7 linked regions of the Homo sapiens genome follow. The protein of the gene in region 4 purifies or fractionates together with the protein of the main gene of each other region. This does not show direct contact. Each region holds a gene or a part of one and is shown on either strand. Other genes may lie near its edges.

Region 1 (3,500 bases), on a different chromosome or scaffold from region 4:
AAATTTTTTTTAAGAGATAGAGTCTTGCCGTGTTGCTCGGGCTAGTCTCAAACTGCTGGCCTCCACTGATCTTCCTGTCTTAACCTCCTGAATAGCTGGGATTACAAGTGCGTGCCACTGCACCCAGCTTGTAGTTCACTTTTAAAACACAGAGCTACTGAAACTATAAAGAGATAGTAGGTATCTAGCAACTGTTGGTAAGGAAACATAATTATCTTTCTCTTAAGGATTTGCTTTGAGAGGAAAGCAAAGCAATCCACAAAACCTAGAGTTCAGATGTGCTGTTAACAGTAACAGTGATACACATTTGTGTATCACTTTACAGTTTACACTCAGCACTTTCATAGCCAATACATTTTGTCCTCGTAATGAACCTATAAAGTATATATGCATAAAAATTTCCCATTTTCTACCGTAACACTTATCAGAAAGCTCAGGAATAGATGTTTTTTATCAAACGTTTCTTCAAAATTCCTTAAGTCAAAGTAACGGGAATTTTAAGTTGCATGGTTTCTTCAGATATACACATTTACATTCTTAATTACATAAGCCAATAAAAACAGTTGTTATACATACTCAACAGGAAAAAGTTTGGTGTGAATGTCTCCCATGCTGGTGTGGATAATGGCACTGTCCGAAACTCGTTTAGGTCCTTCAGCTTGAGTAGCTGCCATGACTTCTTCTTTAGAAGGTTTCTCATTAAAAACATCTCGATCAGAATCTGCACTTTTCGTATCTTCTGGTTCTCGTTTGGTAAACTCAAGGAGGAAAGTAAAAAGTGAGTCAACGAATTAAAGTTTTCATCTGGTAAAAATTTTATGAACAATAGAATTTCTAATGAAGTACTTAAGAAATGTAAGAATTCACATCAGAATCCTTATTTCAGGAATCACTTCCCATACAGGATGTGTCAGGCAATTAAATTATTTTTACATTGTCTAATATGAAAAGGATCCACATAACATACTGAACACATTGATTTCAAATGGAATTTAATTTCTTTGGTTAGAAATTTTCTTGGGCAAACATTTAACAAGAATAATTGTTTCATTTGTGGTAGCTCTCGACTTATGCCTTCTAGTAAGGCCTAACATGCCACCTGTTTGTTGCTCAGTTCATTATTTAGATTGTTTGGATTTGAATTCCAGTTCTGCGACTTTGGGGATGTGAATTCATTTCTTCTCTTCCCTCACTCATATATGATGATAACAGTACATACCTTGCAATGAAGGTAGTTGTGAAGATTAAACGAATAGATATTAAGTCCTTGGAGAACAGTGCCTAATACATAGAGGGTACTATATACATATTAACAGTTGTTATTACTACTATGAGCAGGACCCCATGCTAGGTAGAATAAGGATTCACAAAAATGAATCTGAAATGGATCCTTAATTTTTTTTCACAGTCCCAACTGACCTAGAATCTAAACCCTGAAGCATAGGAGAAAGAATGCAAATTTTCAGTGAAGTTGTAGAAATCTCAGATCCTTGGGGTCTAGGAAGAATTGAGAAAAACCTTTCAGTTGTTAAAACTCTGGACTTCTCAAGGCCTGTTTCTTTAAGTAGAAATGCTCTCTCCTAAGCAACCTCTATCTGATGTAACTTAATTATGGGAACGTAAAGCTAGTGCCTCCATCCCTATCTTGCCTAATGTCATTCCTTGATCTGCTTGGATAGATTCCAAATAAACAACCAAGTTAGGATGCTATCACCTTAACATCCTATTCTCCAGTTTTCAAAGGAATGGCATGTCTGTTGTACTATTTGTTTATATGAATTTTTTAAAGTTATGACTTAGCTGATATATGGATTTGTAAAATCATACTTTTATTTCATGATGTTGGATCTGAAAAATTATGATTTAGCTCATATATGGATTTGTAAAATTATACTTTTATTTCATGTTGGATCTGAAAAATGGGACACAAAATTCATATATATGCATACCATTTTAGTTTTGCTTAAGAATATGTACTAGTAAGACTCAAAGAAAATTCGTAACAATGTTAGCTGTATAAAGCTACAGTGAATGACTTATTTTGTTTCTCTATTTTTTCAAACTTTATAATGAATATATATACTTTGATCAACACACAAGTAAACTTGGAAAAGAAAAAATATAAGTTTTTTGAATAAAGTGGATGGAAAATTAGTGTATGTGTTTTGAGTGTATATCAAGAAATATCCTTTTTTGCCTGTTTTTGTTTAGCAATAGGGTCTTGCTCTGTCACCTAGGCTGAAGTGCAGTGGTGTGATCATAGCTCACTGCAACCTTGAATTCGTTGGCTCAAGAGATCCTACCACATCAGCTTCCAGCATGGCTGAGACCACATGTGCACACCACCATGCCTGGTTAGCTTCTTAAATTTTTTGTAGAGATGAGGTCTTGCTATGTTGCCCAGGCAGGTCTTGGTCCTGGGCTCAAATGATCTTTCTGCTTGGGCCCCCGCAAAGTGCTGTTTTTACAGGGATAAGCCACCATTCCTGGCCAAGAATTATCTTTTATGGGTAATTTTTACTTCCTAACAAAGTTAAATTAAAGGTAAAACGATTAATTTTTTTCCTTCATATACTAATAAATTTTTAGTAATAATTTTGAAAGGTGTAAATGAAATTCTCATCTTAAAAGTATTTACCCATTTAGATGGAAGGTTGGTTGGGGTAGGGAAACTGCTATTTCATACATTTATCAAATGCTGTTAACCTTAATAGCATTACATCAGTTTACAATGTTTTGGAGGAATGAATGAATATACTGTAATGCTGTAGTCATTTCCTAACTTTCTGGATTTAACAGTGAAGAAGACATAGTGCCTGTATTTATGGATTTTATCTTCAGAAGAAGAGCACAGCGTCAGAGGCCAAAAAAATAAATTATTGATGTTCACACAAAAAGTGTGACACATCATATGACAGGGGAAGCATAAGAGAAACATAGCAGGCACATCTAACTCAGACTTGATGTTAAAAAGGGCTTCCAGGCTGGGTGCGGTGGCTCACGCCTGTAATTCCAGCACTTTGGGAGGCTGAGTCAGGTGGATTACCTGAGGTCAAGAGTTCGAGACCAGCCTGGCCAACATGGTGAAACCCTGTCACTACTAAAAATACAAAAATTAGCTGGGTATGGTGGCATGCACCTATAATCCCAGCTACCCAGGAGACTGAGGCAGGCGAATTGCTGGAACCCAGGAGGCAGAGGCTGCAGTGAGCTGAAGTCACGTCACTGCACTCTAGCCTGGGCAACAGAGCAAGATGCCATCTCCAAAAAACAGAGGGGCTTCCAAACTGAAACTTGAAGTATGAGTTAGGAGTTGGAGAGAGGTGTGTGGCTGGTAGAATGAATAGCCTGTGCAAAGGCCCAGAGTTTAAAAAGCACACTCAACTACATGTGAACTTTCAGTATGGTTCGTGTAGCAAATGAATGAAAAATGAAGAAAGATAAAGCTACAGAAGTGAGGAGGGCCAGCCAGCATAGATAGCTGGGGCACCATTAAAGGG
Region 2 (3,500 bases), on a different chromosome or scaffold from region 4:
AGGCAAGCTAAAAATCAGTACTATTTTAATTTATACAACAATTTTAGCCCAAAACACTGAAGGCATGGGCCACTATTTTATAATCTCCTTTAAAGTGGAACGCAGGACTGGCAAATTATAGCCTATATCTTCAAATACTGCCTGCCTGCTGTTTTTCTGTAGCCCATGGGGTAAGAATGATTTTTATATTTTTTAATGGTTGGGAAAAATATCAAAGGAATGATATTTCTCCTTTTTGCCCAGTACCCTCACTGAATTGTTGGGGAGGGGCTGCTGCTATTCAGGAAGCAGCAGCACTAGCAGAATTCAGGTTATACAGTCATTCTTCAAAAGATTTAAATTTTGTCTCTATCACTTACTTTGATACCTTGGGTAAGTTACTTCAGTTCTCTGTGTCTCAGTTTTTTCATCAGCAAAATAGGGAAAATAATAATCTGTAACAATAATAGCACAATGCCTGGAACAGAGTTAAAAATTAGTAGATTTCAGCTACTGTTATTTTTATTTATTTTTTTGTTGAGAAACAGTCTTGCCCTGTCACCCAGGCAGGAATGCAATGGTGTGATCTTGGCTCACTGCAGCCTCTGCCTCCCGGGTTCAAGTGATTCTCCTGCCTCAGCTTCCCAAGTAGCTGGGATTACAGGCACCTGCCACTATGCCTGGCTAATTTTTTGTATTTTTAATAGAGACGGGGTTTCACCATGTTGGCCCGGTTGGTCTCGAACTCCTGACCTCTTGATCAACTACTATTATTAAAGTCCCAGTTTTCTCTCCTCATCATTCTTGTTTTGGAATATTACTTCTTATATTACTGTTACTGCTTATCCCTGCCTCACATGTCAGTAACAATATTGTTGGTACTTTTTTCACAGCAAGGCATTCTGGTAAAGATTGATTCCTGCAACATAAAAACCCTTAGGATTCAGTAGCTGTACCGATTTCATTTAAAAATGTTATTTATTCATTACATAATAGGTGTTAATAGAATTTGAGTTTTACCAAAGTAATACTAAATTTTAATATGCAAATATATAGTCCTGCCCTATGTCAGAGGAACATACTTTAAAAAAATTGTAGCATCATTGTATACAGTAAAATGCATAGATCATGAGTGTACAGTTAGATAATTTTAAGTCTGTATACCTGGGCTCTAACTCCCAATCAAGCTGAACATTGTTATCAACTCAGAAAGTTATCTTGTGTCCTTTTACAATTTGTTCTCCTTAGAGGTAACCACTATTCTAATTTTTCTCCCCATAGATTAATTCAAAGCAATCATATTCACTTATTAGCTTCTTATGGTCTTTTATTACCATGGTGACCACTAGACCCTCTTCTGCCTTTGTGCAATTTAGAAAAAGATCCCCTCTCTGGTGGTTTGGAGAATAGAGCATCAGTTGGTTTCTAGACCTACTGATTCCCTTGGCCTGGCATCCTTGTACTGGAAACAACCTGCCCAACCATACATGGCGATCTTAACTCCATGTTTCTCACTTTTTGCCCCAGTAGGGCGTGGTGCGGCGGGCAGCAGAGTCTTGCTCTGTCACCCAGGCTCGAGTGCAGTGGCATGATCTCGGCTCACTGCAACTTCCGCCTCCCAGGTTCAAGTGATTCTCCTGCCTCAGTCTCCCGAGTAGCTGGGATTACAGGTGCCCACCACCACTCCCAGCTAATTTTTGTATTTTTAGTAAAGACGGGGTTTCACCATGTTGACCAGGCTGGTCTGGAACTCCTGACCTCAAGTGGTCCACCCACCTCGGCCTCTCAAAGTGCTGGGATTACAGGCTGAGCCATAGCACCTGGCCCTCCATGTTTCTCTTTTAACTCCCTATTTCTCTAAATCAGTGGTTGTTAAACATTTTGCTCTGAGAACTCCTTTATAGTCTTAAAAATTGTTCAGGATCCCAAAGAGCTTTTGCTTTATGTAGGTTATATATATTTCCAAATAACCAAAAAGATTTAAGAAGACTAACAGTAACATTGTTTTACATTCGGCAGTGCCCTTTATTGAATAGCTTAATAGAAGATAGCCGGATTTTCCTATCAAATTCTTCATTCAGTCTGTTGTGATATGGTGCTTAGCTTCTGGAAAATTGCACTGTACAATTTTTATTGTATATAAACATAGCGAGAGAATGAAAGTGAAAATGACAGTTTTATTATTTAAACTAACACAGTCTTAGTTTTATTATGAAAAAAGTTTGACCTTGTGGACCCCCTGAACGGGTGTGTTCCTGGACCACATTTGCAGAACATCTATTCTAAATATTTGCTTATACTGCTGTTTCATGGTTTGTTTTCATTTGTTTTATTTTTTGCAGTTTTAGATAATACCTATTGATAATAGCTACATGGAAGGTGAATATTTAGCTTTTTCTGAATATTTACACACTGCACACATGATCTCTTCTCCTGTTCTAGCAATTTCTGGTTAAATTGATATTTAGTGTTTTTTATTATAATTAACATAAACATTAGTTACATTTGAGTATTGTAGTATACTTTTATTTTACTTCCATTCTTGTATAACAACTTTTTATTTTCCCTGAATTTGATCATGCTTCTTGGGGCAGGAGAGAGGGTTCCTTAATTTTCTACATACTTACTGCTCATTCATTCCTCAGACTCTGACAGCAGTATAATTGTCTTTCTGTGTCTTCAAACTCACCAGGTAACTTACCAAGTTTCTTTCTTTCTTTCTTTCTTTTTTTTTTGATGATTTCTTGCCCATCATTCATTAGTTTTCTATTCCAGACTGGTTGCACTCATACAAATGTCCTGAGAGTCATAATCATCTTGGAAGAATTGCCTTTGTCTTTATCACATGCTAGATCTACAGTTTCATAAATCTGAAGAAAAAGATAAATTTTTAAAAAATCTTACGTGTCTCAGAATCGTTATTCCATCCTCATATTTGATAATTTATCTGGGTGTAAAATTCTAGGTTAGCATTCATTTTTCTCTCAGCATTTTGATGGCATTGCTCCATTATCTTCTAATGTGATGCCATTCTGATTCCTTGTTTGTACATGACTTTTTTTCCCCCTTTGGTTGTCTACAGGCTGGTGATTTTCTCCTTATATCTTTTTTTTCTTTTTTCTTTTATGCTTTCAGCTTTCAACATTTTTATTGACATGACTTGTCTGCTGTCATTCATTTTCATTCTTTGTGGCTTAAGGTTTATTTGTTTTATCCCTTTACTGTCGCTTTATTGAGCTTTCAGGAGGAAGTAAACAAACATTTCACTGGAAATCAATATTAGAACTTCAACTTAGCTATCTTGATAGCTTTTTAAAGATTTGTTAGAATATTTCCTTTTACATTAAAAATTGACTTAATGATAATTAATAATGGATAATAATGGAAACCATCTGAATTACCATTAGCATTAATTTAAGATCAGACAGGATGGTCTAGAAAGATTGATGAGGCATCCTCTGATCGTCCTCTTCAAAGTTCCAAGATTGTCTCCTTCATGAGGAATTTTAGAGGCAACTCAT
Region 3 (3,146 bases), on a different chromosome or scaffold from region 4:
AACTTAAAAAAATACTTAAATGGCTAAGTTTACTTGGTGCAGTTAAGAATTAAACTTGTCAATTTTAACATTGCTGTTACATCTGAAATAAACTTATGTGATGTTCTGGTAGTGATCTGTGATATCTGTAAATGTCAAAACTGTATTGTTGAATTCTGCAGCCAGCAACCGTACATACTCATTGTGTAGTGTTTCCCTTACTGCTTTTATTTACTTTCACATTTAAGATCTAATTTTAAAATCATTAAAATAGGCCAAGTGTAATTAAGGCATCCTAATTCAGATCTTCTGTGACTTGCTAGGTACAGTGCCCAATATCTACAATTCAGTTCCAATGAGAGGGAAAAAGTAAGATCCAAGGAACTGTCTTGCTGCTGTATTTTTAATGTAATTATTAGAAATACTTGACACTTTAGGCTGCAATCTAGTTAGTAATGTTTATTGGCTACAGACAACATATTCAGGTGTTTTGTTTTTCTTCCTTGTAAGGAAGGAGTACGGTAGTTCAATGAGTTGGGAATTGGCTTTTAAGCTTTTTATCAAACATGAATTTAAGATTTTTTCTTTAACAGAATTCAGTATTTAATATTTCTAGTCAAAATTGTTATAATTAGATTTTTGCTTTTTTCATTTAAGAAGCAATGAGTGATCCTTGTCTAGTGTGTCTCAGTTATTACTGTAGTTTAAAACAACAAACAAGTATTACCTTCCACAGTTCTGGATCAGGAATCTAGGAGCTGCTTAACTGGGTGGTTCTGTCTTGAGATCTCAGAAGGTTGCAGTCAAGCTGTTAGCCAGGACTGTACCATCTTGAAGCTTGACAAGGCTAGAGGAGCCATTTCCAAGATGTCTTGCTTACGTGGCTCTTGGGCTTCTGTTCCTCACTGTGTGGGTATCACACACAGTGCCTGATGCTCACGTGGCTCTTGGGCTTCAGTTCCTTGGGCACCAGTTGCCTGGTGGACAACTGGTATGTGGCTTCCCCTAGAGCAGGTGATATAAGAAAGTGAGCAGAAACCATACTTTTTTATGACGTAGCCTCAGGTGACATTATTTCTGCCATATTCCATGAGTCACACAGACCAACCATTGAATCAGCTTGGTATAGTGTGGGAGGGGACTGCACAAGGATGTGAATACTGGGAGGTGGATATCATTGGGCCCTCTAGGAGACTGGCTATCACTGCTCAGAGAAGATGCTGGGCTTCGTTGACTCCCAAGGTCAGGGTAGTTTTGGTTAGGTTGTGTTTTATTAGTCTCTAAAAGGAGTAGTTTTCTAAATGAGGGTTATAAAGCACTGCACTTTACAGTTATTCGGGATATAAAAGAAATAGTGGGTCTAAAGGCTGTGCTCTTGTGGTTGGGTTTTCAGTGGGGAGGGGAGACTAGTCTGTCTCAGACTGATGCTGTTCTCACTGATTTGAATATTTCTGGGAAATTGGATACTACAGTCACAAATAGGAACAGTAAGCCTATAGAAGTTTTTCAGGGAGTAAATATTTTCTATGGCAGTGTCCTGAATTGGTTCTCCCTTGCAAGACTGAACTGTAGGAACTTAGTCCTAGTTTATGATACAGCCAAGTAACATAGTCACATGGGAAAAAGAGCTTGAGTCAGATTTCTTAATGTGTGTTGTTAACTTGGTAGAACATTGAGAATTATTTAAGTCAGAGAACGATCTGTTACTGGGGCAGAAATTCTCAACCTTTTCAGTTCTCCAAAATTTAAGATACTTGATTTCTTAGGTAAAATGTTTTTGTTTTTGTTTTGGAGACAGAGTCTCGCTCTGTCGCCCAGGCTGGAGTGCAGTGGCGCGATCTTGGCTCACTGCAAACTCCGCCTCCCAGATTCAAGCAATTCTGCCTGAGCCTCCCAAGTAGCTGCGACTAGAAAGCGCATGCCACCACGCCTGGCTAATTTTTTGTATTTTAGTAGAGATGGGGGTTTCACCGTGTTGCCCAGGCTGGTCTCAAACTCCTGAGCTTAGGCAATCCTCCTGGGGCAGCCTCCCAAAGTGCTAGGATTACAGGCGAGCCATGGCGCCTGGCCAGTAAAATGTTTTCTATCTAGAATGAATCAAGGTATTTTCCTTGCTCAGTAGCTTCTAGAATAAGAAAAAAATAGCAGCAAGATCTGATTCAGAAATAGTTGGGAGCAGAAAGTTAATATGAAGGAGTTGCTACTTGTTAACAGCCTAGAGTTGAGATCTAGAAGAATTATTACCTTTTTAAATTTGTGATGAAAGCTTAAATCCAGCATTTGGGAAGTTACTCTATTGGCTGAACTATTTTGGAGTTTGTAAGCTTTGTATTAGATATTCCTGATTTAACTGAAACTAATTTGCCACATAGCTTTAATTTCATCCCAGTTTTACTTGTTTTACTGTCCTCAAAAACTCAAGACATCTGAACTCAAAGGATCTAAGCAGTATAAATTAAAGCACATGTTGAATCACTGTAGCTTTCGTAGGACATCTGATTATAATGCTTTTCTTTGTTTCTTTGTCCATACTGAACTTGTCTAGTTTATCTTTGAGAAACATTTGCTAGTATCAAAAATCTTCTGTAAAGATTTGAACAATCTTGAATTCTCCTTGTCACTAGCCATCTCTTCCCCTAAAGTATAATAAAACTGTCAGGTACTATATGTGTAATTGCTTATGCAGGTGAAATTTGAATACACAAACAGTAAATCCCAGTTCTCTTAGTAAGATGAAGGCTTTGTTATAGCACCTTTAAAACAATTTTATAACATCCTTCATTCTTATCACTTTCCTAAGTAAGAAACGATCTTCCTTTAGTGGATATAAAAGTTGTACATTGTTTCTGCAGATTTACTGGGTGCCTACTATTCTGAACTCTAGGGATACAGCAGTGAGCAAGGCAAAAAATATCTGTGACTTCTTTAAATAAAGGTAAGTAAAATTCTAGTTTAAGCAGAATTCATGTCTAAGTGCAGGTCATCCTATTTACTAAAATGAATCAGCTCCTTCAAGGATCTTGATTTTACCTTAATTTTGAATTCCCTACATTGACTTGTTTTCTCTAACATTGGCTCCAGTACAAACAAAAAGCCTTAATTCCCATAGGAGAACTGAGACTTACAAGTGGGAAAGGGAGTGCAAAACAGATACAAGTTCAGAATTT
Region 4 (3,500 bases):
TGTATGTTGGGGTGTGTTCTTCCAGGCTGGGCTGTTTTCTTTGAACTCATTCATGCGTTCATCCACTCATTCAGTGTATGCTGACTGAGCACCTACTATGTGCCAGCTGTCAGCCAGGCGCTGGGGATACGGAAATGAGCTGGGCAGCCACAGTCCATGCTCCTATCAAGCTTATGGTAGTGACTCAGTAATTGTAAAAATATATAAATAGTCATGTTTGTGGTCACGGCTCCAAGCCAAGGTCCAGGCAGGTAGTCTGGGACATTGTGGAAGGCTTCCCTGAGAAAGTGCCACTGGACTTGAGATCCGAGGGTAAGTTGGCCAGAAGAGCATGGGTAGCCTGTGCCAGGCAGTGGCATTCAGCACTGGCAAGGCTGGGAGACAGGAAGAAATTTGGCACATTTGAGGATCAGAAGAGGAAGTTCCCGTTCTGGCAGGAGGAGAGCATGGGCAGGTAGGGCTGCAGAGGTGGGAGGGGCCGACTCTGCTTGGCTCTGGGGTCATGCTGAGGAGCTGGGCCACAGAGTCTACTGCTGAGGTCAGGGACTTGGTCTGTGTGGCTCACAGCTATATGGCTGGTGCCTGGAAGGACGCCCAGCACATAGTAGGTGCTTAGGGAGTATCAAAATGAATGAGCGAGGGAGTGAAGGGAAAAGATGGGCATTTTTACCAGATGGGGATGGTTCTACATGAACATTTCCATAACCTGCTTTTTTTTCTGCATAAACAGCAAATTTTTAATGTCTTTCTGTGTCAATACATATGCTGTTGTGATGAAATTCTTGATGTTTTCTCATGCTTTCCTTTCTGTCCAGGAAGGAGTGGAGGCCCTGGTGCCCGGCCCTTGGTGCTGAGTATCCAGCAAGAGTGACCGGGGTGAAGAAGCAAAGACTCGGTGAGTGTGCCCCACAGAGTGGCCAGGAGCAGGGGTGCACAGGGGTCCTATGGACCAGGCTGAGCAGCTTGGATTTGATGCAGGGTCAGTGGAGAGCTATAGAGGGGGTGTCAGCAGGGGGCATGACATGATCCAGTGTGCACTGGTGAGAGATTGTGGAGGCCTGGACCAGGGAGGCAGTGACAGAAGTGGAGAGAAGGGATGTGAGTGCTATTTAGGGAGGTAGAGTAGACAGGACGTGGTGAAGGATTGAATGTGGGGCATGAAGGAGGGGAGGTGTCAAGGATGGTGCCTGAGTTTCTGGCTGGAGTGGATGATAGAGGTGGATGGGGAATGACATACAGCTCGTCAGCTACTGTAGGTGTGAAATAGGCTTCCGGGTGATGTCCTGGGACTTACACCAGGATCTTTCTTCTGCTTCTCCATTCGCCACGTTTCTGTAGAAAAGACTGTTCCCATCGACTGTAGGTTGTCGTAGAAAGAGCTTGGTGCCTGCAGGATCTGGGCATGTCCTCTGCATCTCTTTGATGTCCCCTTGTTCTCCTCTCTGTCTGTTAGAAGCACAGAATGGGTGGGCTGGAGTTGCAGGGAATGAGGTTGGTAAGTTGGTTTAGAGTCAGCATCATGGGCCTTGGATGTCAGGCTAAAGACTTTAGACTTTTTCCTGAGGGCAATACAGCAGCATTGAAGGTTCTTAAGCAGAGAAGCAATATCCATGTGTTGATCTGTCCATTGCCCATCCGTTCATTCTTTCACGGAACACTGTCTGAATGCCTGCTGTGAAATAAAGTGGCAAACAAAAGTGCAGATTTGCATTTTTATGTGCTGAAAGGTGGCACTGGTCTGTGTGCGGGATGGGTTGGGAGTGATTGAAGGCAGGAAGCCCACCAAAGAGGCAGGAAGTGATGAGGTCTTACTAACACAGTGGCAGTGAGGATGGAGGCAGGTCAGATTCAAACTTATTGATGGGTTAGATGTGTGGGATGAGGACAAGGGAGCATTTAAGGAGGGTTTGCGGGCTTGGTGACTGACAACATGGTGGTGCTGTCCCCAAGACTGGACACCCTGGAGGAGGAGTGGAATTGGGGCAGATGAGTTCTGGTTGGGCCATCCTGAGCCAAGAGCTCGGTGGGTCTGTTCACCCTCTGTAAGCTCCTCGAAGGCAGAGCCTGTGACTCTCTTGTTCATCACCCTGCCCACTGAACATCTGGACGGGTGGCTGAACTAACAAGGCTGTGGAAGAGATGGGTCTGGCCTGGGTAGGGGAAGGAAATGTGTATGTCCTGGGTGTCTCCTGGGGTCCAGACCCTACGTTTGGTGAGATGGGCACTGGGGTTATGTAGAGGGTGCAGCAAGAGGGGCTGTGTCACAGGCTGGAAAGGTCAGATGGGGAGGGTGGGTGTAGGGACACTATGTGTCCCTTTGCCTCTCCATCCTCAGATGATGGTCTGACCTAACTCGAAGTCCAGTCTTGCCAGAATAGGTACCTGAAGGTGGAGCCCTCTGTCCTCTCGGGAGGCCACTAGCTGATGGCATGTCTGGTGGGGTGCAGATGGGGTGTGCTATAGGACCTGACTTCTGGAGGCTGGGTAGGGCTGATGTGGGGGTACAGGGGAAGATACTCTGAGATCCTGAGGCCAGGCGCCAGCAAATACAGGAGTTAAGCCAGGTTGGAGCTTCCTTGGGTACAAGGCCCAGGGTGCCCACAGGGGATTGGGTTCTGGGGCAGGGGCCAGGTCAGGCTCTAGGCTCAATTGGCAAAGGATCTTGTTGTCTGTGTTGGGGTTTCTCAGCCTCAGCACCATTGACATTTTGGATCAGATAACCCTTATTGTGGGGGCAGGGCTTGTTATTGTAGGGTGTCTAGCAGCATCCCTGGTTTCTTCCCCCTAGATGCCAGTAGCATCTCCCCGCTTTCCCCAGTCTCGACAATCAAAAATGTCTCCAGTCGTTGCGTAATGTCCCATGGGGGCAAAATTACCCTGAATTGAGAACCTCTGGTCTACAGCCTCTTGCTGCTTTCACTATACTGTACAAACCTGGAAAATTGGGGAGGGTCAGTGGGGAAGATGGATAGTGATGGGCCACTTGAGCAGAGTTCTGAGGGGTGAGTGAGTGCTGGGGCAGGAGAAGGACATTTTTTTCCAATAGACAGAACGGCAGGTACAGAGGCTTGGAGGCACAAAGTTGGGAAACAGTAATCCAAGGGGGACCCCAGCCCCAGAGGAAGGGGCCTGGAGGCTTAGGGGTTACAGCCGCAGGAAGATACCTCTGCTGGTCCCCTTTGGTCATTTGCCTCCAGAGTTAGTCTCCTGCTGACCCTTTGCCGCCTCCAAGTCTCTGCGACACTCCTCCTAATCTCCCCCTCCACTCCTCAGTGAGATGGAGAAACTGAGAGCTGCAACAGGGTGGGACTCAGTCCAGCTGGTGGGAGCCCCGATACCAGCCGTGGGAGGGAGGGCTGTTCCTGGCTCTGCTCACGGATTCTGGCCAACTGGCTGGAGGAGGGAAGGCGGCCTCACCCTCTTCCCCACAGGCCCCTCCTTCCCTGGGTCAGGGGTCCTGGCTGAGACTATAATTTATTCCCGTCATAATCCAGTGGTTG
Region 5 (3,458 bases), about 120 Mb from region 4:
ATATTTATATTTCATGTAAAGGAAAGAACATGGACTTTGGGAGGCTGTGTTACTTACCAGTTGGGTGACCTCAATCAGTTGTTTAACTTGTTCAGGCCTCAAATTTTCACGGTAAAATAATATCAATATTATAGGATGGCTGTGATAACTACAAGATGGAGTGTGAAGATGGTACATGGATGGACACATTCCATTAATGTTAGTTCTTATCATTGTCTTATACTTTTCTCCATTTGATTAATATTAATCTTCACTTCCACTTAAATTGTTTGCTCTTTAGGGAAGATCTTAAATCTTGTATTCCTTGTATCCATCCCTCCAGCACTTAGTTTGGGGACATAATATGTACTTATTAAACATGAGATGGCTTACTTTTGGGGTAGACTTTCTCGGTATTTAGGTGCATCCAACAACGTTTCTAGATTTTGTTCTACCCCATCCTGCTGAGCTCAAGGAATCATCCTCGGGCTGGTGCAGTGGGAAGGGACCAACCTGTGAAATGGCCATCAGAGATTTTATTTATTTTACTAGAAGGTTTCAATCTCTATGACAGCTCCAAGGTGGTGGGATGGGGAGGGCAAGAGAGAAAGCAGGGAGCCTGGGGGAGGCACATAAGATAGTGGTCTCTGGCAACTAAATAAGCTGAGGGAACTCCTGGACCGAGCTCGTCTGGGTTTGAAAAATCCGCCGGCTGACTTCCACCCTAGTCCCGGCCTCGTCCTCATCTTCTTCACTCGACTTGTGGCGGGTGTTCTGGTAGAGCACAGCACACACACCTGTGAGCCAGGCAGCCACAGTTCCCGCGGCGAAGATGCAGAAGCCGATGAGCAGCAGGAAGATGTAGTCTTTGTGGTCCAGGTGCGTGATGCACATGTATCGGAGTGGGTTCCCCACCCGGGTGATGGGCCACCCTGTCAGCTCTGTGGGCTCCACACATGTGGCATTTAGATCATCTAAGAAGAAAAACACAGCAGGCAGGGTGCTGAAACAGCGTGACTCCCAGCGTCCTAAGGCCAAAGGGGATCAGGAGGGACCATCTGCACCCTCAGTGCTCCAAGTGTGGTCTGTGGGCCAGCAGCATCGACATCACCTGGACCTTGTTAGAAATGCAGAATCTCAGGACCCACCTGTGACCTCCTGAATCCAAATCTGCATCTCAACAAGACCTTCAGGGTATCTGTTGCACATTGGAGTTTGAGAAGTACTGGGCCTGGACTGTTCCTTGTCCCCAGGCTTTGCTGCATTCAGGCCATGAAAATGCTTCTTAAGGATGCTCAAGGAAGGAGAGGCCACAACAGGGGTGGGGAGGTTGGAAGGTTAGGCAAGATTGCCATGGAGTGTTGACATCTCTCTGTTCTTTACCAGTCACCTCCCTCTTGCCCCTCCCTTGCCTCCATCCCGACTTTCCCTTCACCTTGTCCCTTTCTCTTTAGCAGTAGCTGAGTCCAACCTGGCATCACTAGCATCCCCCGAGAGCATTGCAAGCCACTCAACTATAGGCTTCAGGAGACGAGATTCTCCTGAAATGTTTACTGTGTGTTCTACCCGCTCACCACTTTCCCCCCGGAGCAAGTCAGGGGAGCCCAGGGTAAACAGGTTGCCAATAGGGAAAGCAGTTCTGCTTCTTGGTGGTGATGTTGGCCATCACTGGCTGATTATGTCATCGACATGAGTCTTCAGTCAGTCTTAGTAGCTGACTCAGCTTCCTGGCTACTTCTCTGAGCACCTCCCCATATGTAGCGCCATGGCCTTCACTATATAACAGAAAGAAAAGTGGGCTCTGGAGCTAGACAGGCCAGGCTTCTAATCCAGATTCTGTTACTTGCTAATTTTGTAAACTTCAGCAGGATACCGGATTCTGTCTCTGAATTCCGTTTCCTCATCTTACCAGTGCAAAGAATGACACTTCTCAGGGTAGTTGAGAGAACTGACTGACATAGGTAAGAAGGCACAGGTGATTGTGCCTCAAGCACGGAATCCTCGGAGCCCTATCACTGCCCCTACATTTTTCTAACTCCATATACTCTTCCATGCTGAGGCTGAGTGCTTGTGTGATGTGCTCAGGTGAATGTATCCAGCACACACTAGATCACTGAGCTCCGGCTCAGGGCTTGAGACAACCATAATCAAAATTATAATAGCAGCCAGTATTTGCTAAGTGCTTACTATGCACTAAGTTATTTACAAATATCTCATTTAATTCTAATAATAACCTTGATGCACATAATATTATTTTCCTTGTCTTACAAATAAGGAAACTGAGATTCAGGAGATCCCATAACTTGAAGGTTTTAGATAACTGCAGAATCTAGATAGAAGATAGAAGACAGAAGACAGAAAGCCAGTGTGAGCTTGCTTTGCGTAAGTGGGATTTGCAAACAGGAGCTATTGTGGAGAGGAGTTTCCTCTAAACTTCAGGGCAGGAACTGCCTGACTAGTGAAAACATCACTATCCTTGGTGACCCAGGATGTTAGGAAAATCAGGTTCAGTTAGGTAAATCCTAATGGGGGCTGGAAGCAGCATTCAAAGAAAAAGTACAGAAGTAAGTTGGCTGGGGAGAAGGCATTTGGGCTTATGGGTGGCTGGAAAGAGCAGTCCTCTTCACCCGGACACCAATACTTGCCTCTTGCTTCTGTATCAATGCACCTACAGCAAAGTCATTTTGTTTTGTTCAGGAAGATGGTGTGCAGTGTGTAATGCTGTTTAGGACTCAAGCTTTTAGACACAAGAGGGGAAGCCAGTGCACGAACTGTGTCATATCCACTGTTTGTAATGATTACAGAGGAAGGGAGAGGAAGAAGCCTCTCTCTAGACAGTGTGGGATGGTGGCCCTCAGGGCAAACCTGCCCCACCAGAGAGCTCTCAAGTAGAGGGAAAGGAGTTGAGGGCTGAAGTTGCAGGAACACAATTATGCCTCTGTACCTCTTTCTAGTCAGCCTGGCTTGAGGACCTCTGTGGCTTTGCCCAGGAGGCCTGGGCATGGGGCTCCCATGAGCAGGGGAGGCGCCTGGGAGCTCTCCAGGAATTCTATCGAGAGAGAGCTCAGGTCACCTGCCCAAACTGTGGGAGACACATGAATCTTCAAAGAAAGATGTATTTGAGAAAGGCAAACATGGGATTCGGAGGGTCTGGGATGTGTCTAGGGGGGTTTATCTCATTCTATTTTTAAAAAGATTGGGCTTTCAAATTGCAGCTTGGGCGGCAGAGATGAGACTAAACATCACACACGTTTCCCCATTTTGGAGCATTAACTTTGAAAGGAGCAATTAGGCAGTGATTTTAATGCATTGTTAGGCTGCTAAGTGAGGGATGTGGGTGGCTTTGTTGGGAGGGAGGCCTGGGTTTCTCTCCCACTGAATTATCTCCCCCTCTTCCCAGTCGCAGTCACTGCCAAGATTTGGGCTCTCCCCTCCCGGGCTCCCTATCTCCATTGTTTCCTTTTCCCAGCTCGGGGCCA
Region 6 (3,500 bases), on a different chromosome or scaffold from region 4:
TTCATTTGAAGGTGAGTGGTCCCTGTCAGTGTGTGTGTTGGACTCAGCACCCCAGATATTTCTGGGACACAGGGCTGCCCCCACCAGGCGGCCGTGCCATGCAGGGCGGGCCTCAGCTCACCCCTGGAGGCACTTGCTCCGGCTCGATCGTTTCCGGCGGCTTCTATGGCCCCAAAGCTGGCCTGGGGCACGGGGACTTGCCACTGTGCTCTCAGCCCGGCCTGTCCTGTGTCAGGCTCCCTCTCCGTCCTCAGAACGAGAGGTGGGGCTGTTGACAGTCATTTTTGTAAACTGTTTTAAGAAACCTGTAAGCAGTTCCTGGAATACATAGAGGGAAGGAAACGGAGCTGGGGTAAGGAAGGGAGCGGGGGAGGGGCCCGGGCCGCGTGCTCATGGCATTTCAGCCATGCTTCAGCTTTTCCCAAAACCCGTTTTTAACACATCATCGAATGTGTGTCAGTTCTCCACTTTCCTTCACCCACGAGGGGTTATGAGGATGCCTTTGATTTCTGTATACAGATTTGCAAGCCAGAAGCATTTTTTCCTAGAAGGGCATAACTTGAAAATGTGCACAGGTGCCTAAATCCTTATCTCACAAACTTTATAGCAAAGAAAGTGTAGTTTTCACATCTCCATGTTGGTTACAGGAAAACGGAATTGTGTCATCCCACAGTTGTGCATTTGGCTCCCCATCTTCCAGTTTTATCGAGGAAAAATTTAATCACAATCTTTCAAACAGAGACGTCTTTCTGACAAAGTCCAGTCACACGGGACCCCTGGGAAGCCAGCCTCAACCTTCCAGGCTGCGAACGTGTGTCGGCCCTTTGGCCAAGGAGCCAGTCACAGTGAAAACCCAAGACGTACATTTCACTCCTTTCTTGTTTTTATTTTTTTGTTTTAGGTTGATCCTCCCACCTCAGCCTCCTGAGTCACTGGGACTACAGGTGTGCACCACCACACCTGGGTAATTTTTTTTTATTTATTTTTATTTATTTACTTTTTGGGACAGAGTCTTGCTCTGTCACCCAGGCTAGAATGCAGTGGCGCAATCTTGGCTCACTGCAGCCTCCGCCTCCCAGGTTCAAGCGATTCTCCTGCCTCAGCCTCCCAAGTAGCTGGGATTACAGGCATGCACCACCACACCCGGCTAATTTTTGTGTTTTTAGTAGAGACGGGGTTTCTCCATGTTGGCCAGGCTGGTCTTGAACTCCTGACTTCAAGTGATCAGCCCACCTCGGCCTCCCAAAGTGCTGGGATTACAGGTGTGAGCCACCGCACCTGGCCCCATTTTACTCCTTAACAGACTTAAATTTTTGGCAAGAAAGGGTGAAGGTACTCAGGTCTCAGTCAGAATCAGGCCCGTGGTTCTGTGCTCTTCCCACGCCCCTGTGCTCTTCCCGCGGCCGGCCGGGCTTTGTGTCATGTCATTTGGGAAGTCGATTATGTTTCCCACAGCTATTCTCCAGTAGCTATGAGAACAGGTTGAAAATGTCTTTCAAGAACAAACCGAAATTGTTTTAAAAGCTCGTGTTTAAACAGAGAAGTCCGTGTAAATGTATTCTAAACTGAGCCTGGCTTCACTCCCTGCCCTGGGGTTCACAGGAAATCTGGCTTTAGCAGTAGGTACTTCCAGGTGTCTCGGGCCCAGTAGGTCCCCTAGAGCTCGACAGACGGGAACTGGAGTCTCCTGGGAAGGAGTTTAGGACAGGTGTCTAGAGTGAGGAAATGGGTAACTCACCGATTTGCTTCTCACACAGGGAAGCCAGCAGTTGTGGGATGCCATTGCCATTGTTGAAATAGGAGTCTCTTGTGCTTTTCTGAATTAAAAACCTTTGCAGTCTTAGATAACATTGTTTCAGAAAACAATGTTTGAAATAGTATTTCAAAAAATACTGAGAATTATTTCCTGCTGTATCTTTTTTCTTTTTCGTTCTGTGTGTGTGCGTTGTATGTAGGCAGACACTGAAAATTGTCTGGTCAAATATAGAGAAATCTATAAATGTGAAGTCTTGTCACTTCCTCAGAGACGGTGCTGCGTTCGTGGCAGGAGGGTGGTGCTTGCTGCAAAGGATGCCTGATTCCCTGTTTGTTCCTGTGCTTGGAGGTGTGGTCAGCCAGGAGGGGCTGTGTCTTCTAAACGCACCTGCCTTTTGATTTTAACCGAAAAGATGATCGCTCCTGAAATGTACATGACAGGTCATTCTAGAAACTAGCCAGATATTGTCCTCAGAAGTCAGCCAGTTAGTACAGGCCTTAGAGAAATTGGGCTGTGGGAAAAATCAGGAATGGAATAAAAACAAATCTGTGGCTTCTGTGGGAGTTGGGGCCACGACAGGGCCACACGGCTCCTCCAGCTCCGAGGGAGACGGGGCCGCGCGGCTCCTCCAGCTCTGAGGGAGACGGGGCCGCGCGGCTCCTCCAGCTCCGAGGGAGATGGAGCCATGCAGCTCTGTGTCTTCTGTGGGTCAGGGCGGGGCCGGGGTGCAAGGACAGAACGCTGCTGTAGTACAGTGGGAGTGTTTTGTTTAGTCTTCCATGATTTACGTCAGTGGGGAATGAGGCTTAGAGTTTTAGAGCTGATTAGGAAATTTAGAACCAACCCATTGTCTAGCCAAATAATTACCAAACTTCTTTGAACTTGCACCCCCATTAGTAAAAACAGTTTTTAAGCATAGGCCTCCAATATATGTACACTGTTGATAAATCACGTGTTTAAATTACATGGCCACGGTCCTGACTCACTCTGTACTTTATGAAACATACATAAAATAGACATTAGAGGGACGTTATAAGAAGTAAATACAGGCCAGGCGTGGTGGTTCTTATCTATGATCCCAGCACTTTGAGAGGCCACGGCAGGAGGATCACTTAAGGCTAGGAGTTTGAGACTGCAGTTAGCCACGATTGCACCACTGCACTCCAGCCTGGGCGACAGAGCAAGACCCTGTCTCTAAAAAATAAGTTAAAATTTATTTAGAAAGAAGTAAGCACACGCAAAGCCTTAGGAATTCTTGGGTCCAGCACACGCCTGCTGTGTTGCGGGCTTCAGAGCCTGGCTGATTCACAGTGGATGAGGCTGGAGCCGGGAGGGGAAGCCATTCATCCAGCGCAGCCGTAGGTGCAGAGCTGAGACTCCACCTCCCCGTCAATCAGTAAACATGTTAAGCCATAGAATTTTATTTGTCTTAAAACTTGGTGTTATAGAAAAGCTCAAAAATGCACAGAAGAGGGGCAGGCAGCAGAGCGACTGCCAGCTTCAGCGCTGACCAGCCCTTGGCATGCGTGTTCTGCCTGCCTGGGGCCACTTTTCTTTTTAACTTTGGAGGGCGGGGAGAACTTGGGCATGTTGTAAAGCAGATAATGCAGTGCGCCGTCATTTCCCTCACAGGTGCCGTGTGCATCACTAACGCAGCTTCTCCACCACATAGCTCAAGTGCCTGTTCACATTTCACAAAATAAGCACAGATTCCTTAGCTCCCAGTCTGTGTTCAGTTTTCCCA
Region 7 (3,500 bases), on a different chromosome or scaffold from region 4:
CTCCAGCCTGGGCAACAGCAAGACTCCGTCTCAAAAAGAAAGAAAAAAAGAACTTCATTGTGCTCCCAAAGCCTACATCATTGTGCTTTGTTTGTGACTTCCCTTCAAAGATTGGGTGAGGGAAAAGAACTTTGTGTCCCTAAAGCCAAGAAAGGCTATTTTAATGAGCCTTTAATGTTCATTCATCAAATATTTATTGATGTATTATGGAAGGCACTATGATGGTCATTTGGGGTTTTTAAGAAGGTCATTGCTGGCCGGGCGTGGTGGCTTACGCCTGTAATCCCAGCACTTTGGGAGGCCAGGGCGGATCACTTGAGGTCAGGAGTTCGAGACCAGCCTGGCCAACATGGCGAAACCCCGTCTCTACTAAAAATATAAAAATTAGCCAGGCATGGTAGTGCACGTGCCTGTAACCCCAGCTCCTTGGAAGGCTGAGACAGGAGAATTGCTTGAACCTGGGAGGTGGAGGTTGTGATGAGCCGAGATTGCCCCATTGCACTCTAGCCTGGGCGATAAGAGCAAAACTCCATCTGAAGAAAAGTAAATAAAAAATAAAAAGGTCATTCCTTTCAAATAGCTCAGACTAGAAAGGAAGATAGGAAGACACCTCTATAAACAAATACACCGTGGGCCGGGTGCCGTGACTCACGCCTGTAATCCCAACTCTTTGGGTGGCCCAGGTGAGTGGATCACCTGAGGTTGGGAGTTCGAGACAAGCCTGACCAACATGGAGAAACCCTGTCTCTACTAAAAATACAAAATTAGCCGGGCGTGGTGGCGCATGCCTGTAATCCCAGCTACTCGGGAGGCTGAGGCAGGAGAATCGCTTGAACCCGGGAGGTGGAGGTTACTGTGAGCTGAGATTGCGCCACTGCACTCCAGCGACAGTGTGAGACTACATCTCAAAACAAACAAACAAAAAACAAATACATTGTGTAAGAGTAATCAAAGAGATCACTTCTGGTAGATGATGATGTAGAAGGATCAGACATTTCAAAATAAGGAGCATTGCAACTGGGCATGCTGGTGCCCACCTGCGGTTCCAGCTACTTGGGAGGCTGAGGTTGGAGGATCAGTTGAGCCCAGGAGTTCAGGGCTGCAGTGAGCTGTGGTCGCAGCACAGCACTCCAGCCTGGGTGATAGAGCAAAACTCTCTTAAAAGAAAAATAGCATTTGAATTTTTTCCCTTTAAAAGAAAAAAATCTTTTTTTTTTTGAGACAGAGTCTCACTCTCTGTTGCCCAGGCTGGAGTGCAGTGGCTCCATCTCGGCTCACTGCAAACTCTGCCTTTCGGGTTCAAGCAATTATTCTACCTCAGCCTCCCGAGTCGCTGGAATTACAGGAGCGTGCCACCGTGCCTGGCTAATTTTTGTATTTTTAGTAGAGATGGGGTCTCACCATGTTGGCCAAGCTACTCTGGAACTCCTGACCTCAAATGATCCACCTGCCTCACCCTCCCAGAGTGCTGGGATTACAGGCATGAGCCACTGTGCCTGACCAAAAGAAAAAATCTTTTATTTAAAGATTTCAATAAGTAGTGCACATTCATTATGTACGAAGTACAAAAAAGGCAAAACATTACCTATAATTTCACAGACCAGAGCTAACTACTGTTATATTGTGGTATATATCCTTGCAATATTTTGAAGACTTAAAAAATATATGTGTATATTTATGTATACCATGTATCTGCAGTATATATTTGTGTGTGTGTGTGTTTTTTTTTTTTTTCCAGACAGTGTCTTACTCTGTCACCAAGGCTGGAGTGCAGTGGCATGATCTTGGCTTACTGCAACCTCTGCCTCCCAGATTCAAGCCATTCTCCTGCCTCAGCCTCCCAAGTAGCTGGGATTACAGGCGTGTGCCACCACCCCTGGTTAATTTTTATATTTTTTGTAGAGATGGGGTTTCGCCATTTTGGCCAGGCTGGTCTTGAACTCCTGGCCTCAAGTCATCTGCCCTCCTTGGCCTCCCAAAGTGCTGGGATTACAGGCATGAGCCACCGTACCCAGCTGTACAGTTCTTTACCTAGCATTTCTTGTGATGTAAATATGAAAAAATGCTATGTAAAGAAATCAGTAAAATTTGAAAACTTAATTTTTAATTCCACACTATCATCTATTTAATTTTTCCTTCCCACATTTTTTTTTTCTAGGTTAATAATAAAAATTGCTCTGGGTGCGGTGGCCCATGCTTGTAATCTTAATACTTTGGGAAGCTGAGGCAGGTGGATTGCCTGAGCTCAGGAGTTTGAGACCAGCCTGGGGAACACGGTAAAACCCCGTCTCTATTAAAAATACAAAAAATTAGCTGCCGAAGTGGCGTGCGCCTGTAATCCCAGCTGTTTGGGAGGCTGAGACAGAAGTATCACTTGAACCCGGCAGGTGGAGGTTGCAGTGAGCCAAGATCACGCCCTTGCACTCCAGCTTGGGTAACAGAGCAAGACTCCGTCTCAAGAAAAAAAAAATTGCTAACTGTATATGAGAAGGCAAATAATGTCTTTTAAGTTTTGAAATGGGATGGTGGGTTTCTGATAGCTGAAAATTGAGAGAAAGGGCATTTATGCTTGTGCAACAAATAATACTGAAATACGTATATGTAGAGAAAATTCATAGAGTAGGGGAAGACATTTTGGGAAAGTTTTTTTTTTTTTTTTTTTTTTTTTTAAGATGAAGATGAAGTCTTGCTGTGTTGCCCAGGCTTGAGTGCAGTGGCGTGATCTCAGCTCACTGCAACCTCCACTTCCCGGGTTCAAGCGATTCTCTTGCCTTAGCCTCCTGAGTAGCTGGGACTACAGGTGCATGCCACCACACCAGGCTAATTTTTGTGTTTTTAGTAGAGACGAGGTTTCACCATGTTGGCCGTGCTGGTTTTGAACTCCTGAGCTCAGGCAATCCGCCCTTCTCGGCCTCCCAAAGTGTTGGGATTACAGGCGTGAGCCACCATGGTTGGCTGGGCAAAGGATTCGTGCCTGGAAAAAAAGGTTGATGTTAGTTCCTCTCTTGGATTGCTATAGTTCACTCATATAAATGTAGATACTGAACTCTTATGCAAACTCATTATGTATGTGCTTTGATATGTAAACTATTTCTTTAAAATATATTCATATACTTAAACCAAATAACACCAGCAGATGCATACAAGAGCTACCTCTTGAGTCATTTTATCTCGAACCTCACTTCCCAATGCAGAATAAATTGCTCCCTCATCCATGTTCCCATAGTGTTGTATAAAGACCTGACCTCACAGTCTTATAGTTCCTAGTTCCTAGTCTCACTCATTAGACTGTGAATTCCTCAAAGGCAGAAGCTATATTTTAAACATCATTGAATCCCTAGCACTTACTACAGTTCTGGCATAGTTGTTTTTAATTGACTTTTCCTCTCTACAGCTGAGGAGGATGAGGACAAGGAAGATGATTTCCGAGCTCCCCTTTACAAAACAGTGGAGATAAAGGGCATCCAGGTGCGCATGAAATGGTGTGCCACCTGCCGCTT

What was found.
Region 1: the proteins of PTPRF (region 4) and PPWD1 fractionate together in Homo sapiens (co-fractionation; one large-scale study listed by BioGRID). This does not show direct contact.
Region 2: the proteins of PTPRF (region 4) and ITM2B purify together in Homo sapiens (co-immunoprecipitation; one large-scale study listed by IntAct). This does not show direct contact.
Region 3: the proteins of PTPRF (region 4) and NAA50 fractionate together in Homo sapiens (co-fractionation; one large-scale study listed by BioGRID). This does not show direct contact.
Region 5: the proteins of PTPRF (region 4) and LRRC52 purify together in Homo sapiens (co-immunoprecipitation; one large-scale study listed by IntAct). This does not show direct contact.
Region 6: the proteins of PTPRF (region 4) and DNAAF5 fractionate together in Homo sapiens (co-fractionation; one large-scale study listed by BioGRID). This does not show direct contact.
Region 7: the proteins of PTPRF (region 4) and ZDHHC5 purify together in Homo sapiens (co-immunoprecipitation; one large-scale study listed by IntAct). This does not show direct contact.

The regions. Positions count from the first base shown.
Region 1 is NC_000005.10:65,580,296-65,583,795, reverse strand, and holds part of PPWD1 (peptidylprolyl isomerase domain and WD repeat-containing protein 1), read right to left. Parts: intron 759-3,500; coding exon 577-758; intron 1-576. UniProt on the Homo sapiens protein: PPIase that catalyzes the cis-trans isomerization of proline imidic peptide bonds in oligopeptides and may therefore assist protein folding. May be involved in pre-mRNA splicing.
Region 2 is NC_000013.11:48,239,706-48,243,205, forward strand, and holds part of ITM2B (integral membrane protein 2B), read left to right. Parts: intron 1-3,500. UniProt on the Homo sapiens protein: Plays a regulatory role in the processing of the amyloid-beta A4 precursor protein (APP) and acts as an inhibitor of the amyloid-beta peptide aggregation and fibrils deposition. Plays a role in the induction of neurite outgrowth.
Region 3 is NC_000003.12:113,715,958-113,719,103, reverse strand, and holds the end of NAA50 (N-alpha-acetyltransferase 50), read left to right. Parts: 3' UTR 1-2,646; downstream 2,647-3,146. UniProt on the Homo sapiens protein: N-alpha-acetyltransferase that acetylates the N-terminus of proteins that retain their initiating methionine. Has a broad substrate specificity: able to acetylate the initiator methionine of most peptides, except for those with a proline in second position.
Region 4 is NC_000001.11:43,537,383-43,540,882, forward strand, and holds part of PTPRF (receptor-type tyrosine-protein phosphatase F isoform 1 precursor), read left to right. Parts: intron 1-815; 5' UTR 816-895; intron 896-3,500. UniProt on the Homo sapiens protein: Possible cell adhesion receptor. It possesses an intrinsic protein tyrosine phosphatase activity (PTPase) and dephosphorylates EPHA2 regulating its activity.
Region 5 is NC_000001.11:165,561,000-165,564,457, reverse strand, and holds the end of LRRC52 (leucine-rich repeat-containing protein 52 precursor), read right to left. Parts: intron 954-3,458; coding exon 634-953; 3' UTR 501-633; downstream 1-500. UniProt on the Homo sapiens protein: Auxiliary protein of the large-conductance, voltage and calcium-activated potassium channel (BK alpha).
Region 6 is NC_000007.14:757,699-761,198, forward strand, and holds part of DNAAF5 (dynein axonemal assembly factor 5), read left to right. Parts: intron 1-3,500. UniProt on the Homo sapiens protein: Cytoplasmic protein involved in the delivery of the dynein machinery to the motile cilium.
Region 7 is NC_000011.10:57,685,114-57,688,613, forward strand, and holds part of ZDHHC5 (palmitoyltransferase ZDHHC5), read left to right. Parts: intron 1-3,394; coding exon 3,395-3,500. UniProt on the Homo sapiens protein: Palmitoyltransferase that catalyzes the addition of palmitate onto various protein substrates such as CTNND2, CD36, GSDMD, NLRP3, NOD1, NOD2, STAT3 and S1PR1 thus plays a role in various biological processes including cell adhesion, inflammation, fatty acid uptake, bacterial sensing or cardiac functions.